2 linked regions of the Homo sapiens genome follow. The protein of the gene in region 1 purifies or fractionates together with the protein of each later gene. This does not show direct contact. Each region holds a gene or a part of one and is shown on either strand. Other genes may lie near its edges. The genes, in order: LAPTM5 and EPB41L5.

The links.
Region 2: the proteins of LAPTM5 (region 1) and EPB41L5 purify together in Homo sapiens (affinity purification with mass spectrometry, with the first as the bait; one study listed by BioGRID). This does not show direct contact.

What each region holds. Positions count from the first base shown.
Region 1 is NC_000001.11:30,751,045-30,754,865, reverse strand, and holds part of LAPTM5 (lysosomal-associated transmembrane protein 5), read left to right. Parts: intron 1-2,505; exon of another isoform or gene 2,506-3,821. UniProt on the Homo sapiens protein: May have a special functional role during embryogenesis and in adult hematopoietic cells.
Region 2 is NC_000002.12:120,089,487-120,093,307, forward strand, and holds part of EPB41L5 (band 4.1-like protein 5), read left to right. Parts: intron 1-860; coding exon 861-1,030; intron 1,031-2,068; coding exon 2,069-2,175; intron 2,176-3,762; coding exon 3,763-3,790; intron 3,791-3,821. UniProt on the Homo sapiens protein: Plays a role in the formation and organization of tight junctions during the establishment of polarity in epithelial cells.

The sequences.
Region 1 (3,821 bases):
CGACTCTGCACATCATGAGCTATTTGTGGACTTGGCCCCTCTAGGGAGGGTTAAATTGAGACCTTGCCATCCTGAGACAGTGCCACGCTCTATTGAGTCATGAGGGCGTTATTACATGAGGGAAGCCTGGTCCGTAGCTTTGGGCTCGGGCATCTTCCTCAGGATGTCAGTGGGTTTGTGTAGAGGATTCTCTGGGTCACCCAAACTTGCACACTTTGGGAACCCAGCAAACTTTCTTTCTTTTTTTAAAAAATCTATTCTTTTTTTCAAAGTTCAGTAACTTGCCCATCTTTTGTGGTTTGATTTGTTTTGTTTTGTTTTTGTTTTTAAGAGATGGGGTCTTGCTCTGTCACCCAGGCTGGAATGCAGTGGTGCCATCACAGCTCACTGCAGCCTTGAACTCCTGGGTTCAAGAGATCCTCCCACCTCAGCTTCCTGAGTAGCTAGGATCACAGGCGCATGCCACCATGGCCAGCTAATTTTAAATATTTTTTTTTGTAGAGACAGGGTCCCACTATGTTGCCCAGGCTGGTCTCAAACCCTTGGCCTCAAGTGATTCTCCTGCCTTGGCCTCCCAACGCGCTGGGATTACAGGCATGAGCCACCGAGCCCAGTCTAGAGAAATTTCTTAAATTGGGTCTCTTGGGTCCTGGCTTTTTGTCAACCTGAAGCACGTTCTAAGTCGATGGTAGAAAGTGGACACCCCCAGAAGACACTTTTGCCCAGAAATCTCTTTCTTCCTGACCCCTCTTCCCCAGAGTGCCCGGAATTCCACTGTCAGAAATGCATTGTCTGGGTTAAAAAACTTAACACCTGCTATGATTTCAACAGTGTCAAAACAGGATACGTCAAAACTGGGCGAGGAGGAAATGTATTTGGGTTCTAGGATAGTGAAAGCTCTATTTTTTCTACTTTTCTGTATTTTCCATATTTGGTACAATGAGCACGTACTTAGAACGGTTTTAGATTTACGAAAATATTGCAAACACAGTACAGATAGTTCTTGCGTCCCCCATGCCTAGTTCCTCTATTGCTAACGTCTCAACGTTAGTGTGGTGCGTTTGTTGCAATGGGTGAATGAATATTCGTGGGCTGTTATTAAAGTCAGTGCTTCACCCCTATTTCCCCAGCTTTCCTCTTACATCCTTTTTCTGTTCCAAGATTGCATCCAGGATGCCGCGTTACATTTAGTCTTCACACTTCCTTAGGTTCCTCTTGGTATGATGGTTTCTCAGATTTTTCTTGTTTTTGATAATCTTGACAGTTCGAGGAGTATTTGTCAGGCATTTTGTCAAATGTTCTTCAACTGGGGTCTCTGGTGGTTTTCTCATGATTAGTCTGGGAATGTGCTTTTGGGAGGAAGACCACAGAGATGATGTGCCAGTCTCAGAACATCGTACTAAGAAAAGGTTCTGCCAACTTGACTTACCACTGTTGCTGGTGACTTTGAGCCCCCGGCTGAGGTTACTCCTTTGTAAAGTTACTCTTTTTTTCTCCTTTCCATGCTGTATGTTTTAGAAGGAAGTCACTATGCTGCTCCAAGCAACTCAAGTTTGATGAATGGGGAGTTCCGCCCCACCTCCTTGAGGGCAGAGTAGCTACATAAATTACTTGGAATTTCTCAAGGAGATTTGTCTGTACTCCCAGTTTATTATATAAATAAATGATTTATTTATATTACAGGGACCCAGGGATCTTTACTGTATGCTTTGGGTTATAATCCAATGGTACTTTACTTTGTGGCTCAAGTATACTACTTTTAAATTGGAAAAAAAAAAAAGTACGGCCAGGTGCGGTGGCTCATGCCTGTAATCCCAGCATTTTGGGAGGTTGAGGCGGGTGGATCACTTGAGGTCAGGACAAAACCCTGTCTTTACTAAAAATACAAAAAATTAGCTGGGCATGATGGCGGGAGCCTGTAGTCCAAGCTACGCGGGAGGCTGAGGCAGGAGAATTGCTTGAACCTGGGAGGTGGAGGTTGCAGTGAGCCGAGATCGCGCCACTGCGCTCTAGCCTGACAGAGTGAGACTCTTTAAAAAAAAAAAAGGTAAAGCATTCAAATCATAGTATTTGAAGAAGGAGTCTCTATTGCCCTGACCTCGTGCAGGTAAGTTCACCCATGTGCCCAGCCCCAGGCCGGGATACAGCCCTGACTCATTCACGGCCTCTGCCCTTGAGGGGCCAGTCTGCCAAGGAAAAACCGACGAGGACAATGGATGACATTGCTGGCTATGATGGGGGCACAGATGTAGGGCTGGAGGTTGGGATTCTGGAATAGCTTCTTGGAGGAGGTCTGAGTCTTAAGGATGAGTAGGGCTTTGCTTGGGCACCTTGGAAAAGAGGTCACGCTGGGCGGGGGGAGTAGCATGACACAGGCTTGGAGGGGAAGGACCCTGCAGTGCTTCAGAGACCTAGCAGGTTTGTCAAGCTGGGTTAGGAGGGGTGGCCACGAGGTGTGTCGGGGAGGAGGGTGGAGAGGTCCCCAGGGGTGGGACCTGCCCGAGTCCTTTGCTTTTACAAGCTTCAGAGCTAAGAAGATGGATCTCTCTTCGGCCTATCAGCTCATTTTGCAGATGGGAAAACAGGTCCAGCAGGGCCCCTTACTTGCTCCAGGACACATGGAGAGATGGGGCAGGAGCTTGCTTCAGGTCCCCCTGCTGGCACACAGGTGTGTGGAATGATCCAGAAAGTGGGCAAATGAGTTCCTTCCCTGCCCCATGGCTGGGGTGGTGTGTCTGTCTGGGAGGCCCTGCCCTCATCCAGCCTCCCACCATTCATTTCTTCTTTATGGTCCAGTTTACGGGAAGCTTCCTCCTCCAGGAAGCTCTCCTGATTTGTCCTCCTTAGAACTCCTGGGGCTCTTTTCTCTGCTCCACTTTGGGGGCAGTGATTTGTGATTGAAAGGAACACAGGCCCATCTCCATTACTTACCAGCAGTGTGACTTGAGCAGGCGGGCACCTTTGTTATCTGAGCCTTGCCTTCCTCATCTGTAAATGGGGCCAGTGGTCCCTGCCTCAAAAGTGATCATTTGGAGGAGACCCTAGCGAAGCCGGGTGGAGGGCTAGCAGGTGAGTGCCTGAAGTGGGCTGTGGAAGAAGAACACAAGGCCCCCCGCCCCTTTTTTTTGAGACTGAGTCTTGCTCTATCACCCAGGCTGGAGTGCAGTGGCGTGATCCTGGCTCACTGCAACCTCTGCCTCCCGGGTTCAAGTGATTCTTGTGCCTCAGCCTCCCAAGTAGCTGGAATCACAGGTGTGTGCCATCATGCCCGGCTAAGTTTTGTATCGTTAGGAGAGATGGGGTTTCACCATGTTGGCCAGGCTGGTCTTGAACTCCTGACCTCAAGTGATCCACCAGCCTCAGCCTCCCAAAGTGCTGGGATTATAGGCGTGGGCCATAGTGCCTGGCCCCACTCCTCTGTTGAAAGTTCATCTGTTTGGGGTTGAAAAATGGGTCCAAACTGCCAGGTGGGGAAAACCCTGGGTGAGAATCTGTTAGAACTTGCCACCTTTATGTCCAGTGCCCCTGGGCTGGACAGAGAGGCCACGTTCTCTGCCACTGCAGCTCTGTGCGCTTCACGGAGGGGTGAGGAGGCCGGTGGGGGCAGGGTGGGAGTTGTAGCCCCTCCTCAGTGTCAGAACTGAGTTGTTCTCCTCACCTCAGGGGTGTGAACCCCAGCTTCTAAAAGCAGGAGGCCCCCATGGCCCATCCCACCCAGAGAGTGGCTGAAGGGCCTAGCCTGGCCTGGCCGAGACTTCTCTGTTGCCAACCTGGCCCCGAGGCCTCCAGGAAGTGAGGCTTTTATTTTGAGCCTAGAGCAT
Region 2 (3,821 bases), on another chromosome or scaffold:
GTACCTATGTAGATCTAACATATATATATGCTATTGTGTAATATGAATAAACAATAGCACATTCATTCATTCATCATTTATTCATTTATCCCTCTGCATAATTTTTTACATATGCCTCTATTTACTTGACCATTTCTCTTTTTTTGGACGTTTAGGGTTTGTACCAAGTTTTACTATTATAAATGAGACTGAGGAAATATACATCTTCATATATAACTTTTGATGTTTAGGAAATAATTTTCCCCAGAGAGGCAGTATAACTTAGTTGTTAGAGGTGTATGTAGATTCTGGAGCAAGACTAATGTTTAAGTTCATTTCCGGTTTTCTTTCTTAATAGCTTTGTGATTTTGGGCTTAATTTCTTTGAGCCTCAGTTTCCTTATCTATGAAATGGGGCTAATGATAGTATCTACTCATTGAGATAATTTATGTGAAATCCTTAGAAAAATTTCTATATGAATGTTAACTATTATAATTAGACTCATGGCAGTGTGATTACTATGACAAAAATGTGAGCATTTTTAGGGCTGTTGATGCATACTGCCAGATCTGATATGATTCCTCAAATTATAATTATACAGTTATCCCAAATAATGGCAGATAAAATCTCATTTTATGTCTCTCTCACAAATGAGATCATGTAAGTAGAGGGGAATAACTCCTAGGAATAATTTTGTATTGGCTGATAAAATGAGCAACTTGATTTCAGCTCTGCCCTTATTATGTTGATACTATAAAGAGTGTCTGAATTTCAGGGAGCACACTAGATCCTTTATTCATGGATGTGTTTGTATCTCAGAAATAGGAGATAGGACTGTTTGAATTAGTAATCATCCTTTTATATATACTTTTCTTTTTCAGGGCAAAGAACAGGAACATACATTTGTCTTTAGACTGGATCATCCAAAAGCATGCAAACATTTATGGAAATGTGCTGTGGAGCATCATGCTTTCTTCCGCCTTCGAGGCCCCGTCCAAAAGAGTTCTCATCGATCAGGATTTATTCGACTAGGATCACGATTTAGATATAGGTTAATTTTAATTGCTGTTTTATCTGTCTTTCATTGCATACAGGCCAAAAAATTTAGGCCAATCTTCTCTTTTTTACAGATATGGTAACTAAGGTATAGAGGAATAAGGTGGTTTGCCAGAGTCTTCCATTGGCCAAAATAAAATAGAAAAAGTGGTATTGTTATTGGTTATAATTTCTTGAATAGATGCGTAAACAGTAATTGTATAATGGCTTTTATATCCCTCTGGATGTTTACTTTATATATTAACCCACTCCCAGTTTATCTATTTAACAAGAGTTTTATGGACTCTCCACCCACCACTGGATACCATATAGAAAAGGGTTTCTTGCACTGAATGGGATATTAGTCTGGATAACATTTGTGGTCCTTTATAAACCTGAAGGTCATTATTCTCATGACTCCTTGTTTGTTGTCATGAGTTAGAAATGTTTTGGTTTACTGCAGAGTGGATTATTGGTTGTGAGTTTTCTGCATGCCATGGAAATCAGTTAAAGAAGGAATGGATTGTACCAATAATGTGGCCAGTTGATTGTGTGGAGTTAATAGAAGTAGTACTGTAGTCTACTTATATTAAAAGTAAGGAGGCATTTTCTAAACAGAATTTAAATGGAAATCAAGGAGAATAAGACAGTAGTCTTAAAAAACATTTCTGGAAAATTATACTGAAAAGTGAATATCACAATTAGAAAAAGTAACTGAAAATATTCTTTTAATTACACACTTTGCACTGAGGAATGTAGATGGGAAAGAGAGGGAGTTTCCATAAAAGGACAGATATTTCAAACTTATTTAATGTGTACTTAGGTGATATGCATGCATATGAGAAAAATAAAACCAACATAATCTGTTGCATATTTCACAAAAGCCGAAAGAATGATATGGTAAAGAGAGAGATCGAGACTATTAGTAGCTGTTCCTGTGCGATGAAGTTTAGGATGATTCTTTTAAGGAGAACCTGAATGTGGACTGTCTTATTTGTGTGTGTTTATTACTGTAGACCTAAAATTTCCCTTACTTCTGTTATGCCTCATTTAGTGGGAAAACAGAGTATCAGACCACAAAAACCAATAAAGCAAGAAGATCAACATCCTTTGAAAGAAGGCCCAGCAAACGATATTCTAGACGAACTCTACAAATGAAAGGTGAAGTGCAACCCTCTTTCAAAGGATTATTTTTCCTTGGCAATTAATTATGTGCTGGTGTTGTTTCCATAAGAGGAAGTTACCTGAATCTCCTCCTCAGGTCTGTTCCAGTCAACTAAAGTACTTTTCTGGCAGAATCAATTTCATGGGATACACAGAGAAAAATTGCCTGTATTGTTAGCAGAGATTAAACTTTATGTTAATCCCAATTCAAATGATAGTCTGAGGTTATGTTCAGTTTTTGTATACAAAACTGTTTCTGTAGAGCAACATATTCTCTCCCTTTTTGACTTACAGATCTCATTCTAAAACATCCCTTAATCCCCTTAGGAATTTTTAAAAACATTTTTATTTATTTATTTATTTATTTATTTATTTATTTATTTTGAGATAGTCTCACTCTGTTGCTCAGGTTGGAGTGCAGTGGCATGATCTCAGCTCACTGCAACCTCCACCTCCCAGATTCAAGTGATTCTCATGTCTCAGCCACCTGAGTAGCTGGGATTACAGGCATGCGCCACCACTCCTGACTCATTTTTGTATTTTTAGTAGAGATGGGGTTTTGCCATGTTGGCTGGGCTGGTCTTGAACTCCTGACCTCAAGTGATCCACCCACCTTGGCCTCCCGAATCCTAAAAGGATTACAGGCATGCCTGGCCAAAACATTGTCTTGTGATGAATTTTTTTTAAGTAAAATTTATTTCATATTGTATTATAATATTAAGGATTGTATTAAATACCATTTTAAAATATATTCATCATTGTTATACATAGACATTTCCTAATTCATAATTGTTACTTGCTGATTAAGATCAGTTATATAAGAAAAAGCACTATTTACCTTGACAAATAAATTAAACCTTGTGTTTGGTTTTAAACTGAATTTGCATTAAAATGAATTTGCATTAAAATGCAAATTTAATTTTAAGTATTTCCACTGTCAGAGTCATCACCAGTTGTCCAAAAACAGCTGTAATGATCTGATGTTTGGCAGTATTGACTTTTTTATAAAAATGATTTATACTCATAAGTTTTGGTGTGGCTGTAAATTAAATATACAGCTATAAATGAATTGTGATGATTTTAAAACCCTAAGTTTCCTCTTGGTTTCCACTGATGATAATTCATAATCAGTCAGCTCACTCTGGAGGCTTACAGATTGGTTCTGTTTAAAAGGAGGAGATATATATGCATTGTATTGCTTTATTTGAAAAATGAAAATAATTGCCATTGTTGCCTCTATGGTGTGAATCCCAAAACACTTTGGTGAATTGAAGGTTTTTAGATTTATGGTTGGGGCCAAATGTGGTGGCTCACACCTTTAATCCCAGCACTTTGGGAGGCCAAGGTGGGAGGATTGCTTGAGCCCAAAAGCTCAACTCTTAGGAGTTTGAGACCAGCCTGGGCAACAGTAGTGAGACCCACCCCTATCTCTACAAAATCATGAAAGACCCTTTCTCAAAGAAATAAATTTATGGTTGTGAAACATGGCTTGTAAAGCAATTAGTTAAAGTTTTGCTTTGAATAGTGCAGCAGTTTATCATGTAAGATGAAACTAATGAGGTGTTATCTTTTTTCTTCTGTTAGCATGTGCTACAAAACCTGAAGAACTTAGGTAAGTAATGTTTTGCAACTTAGGAATTGGT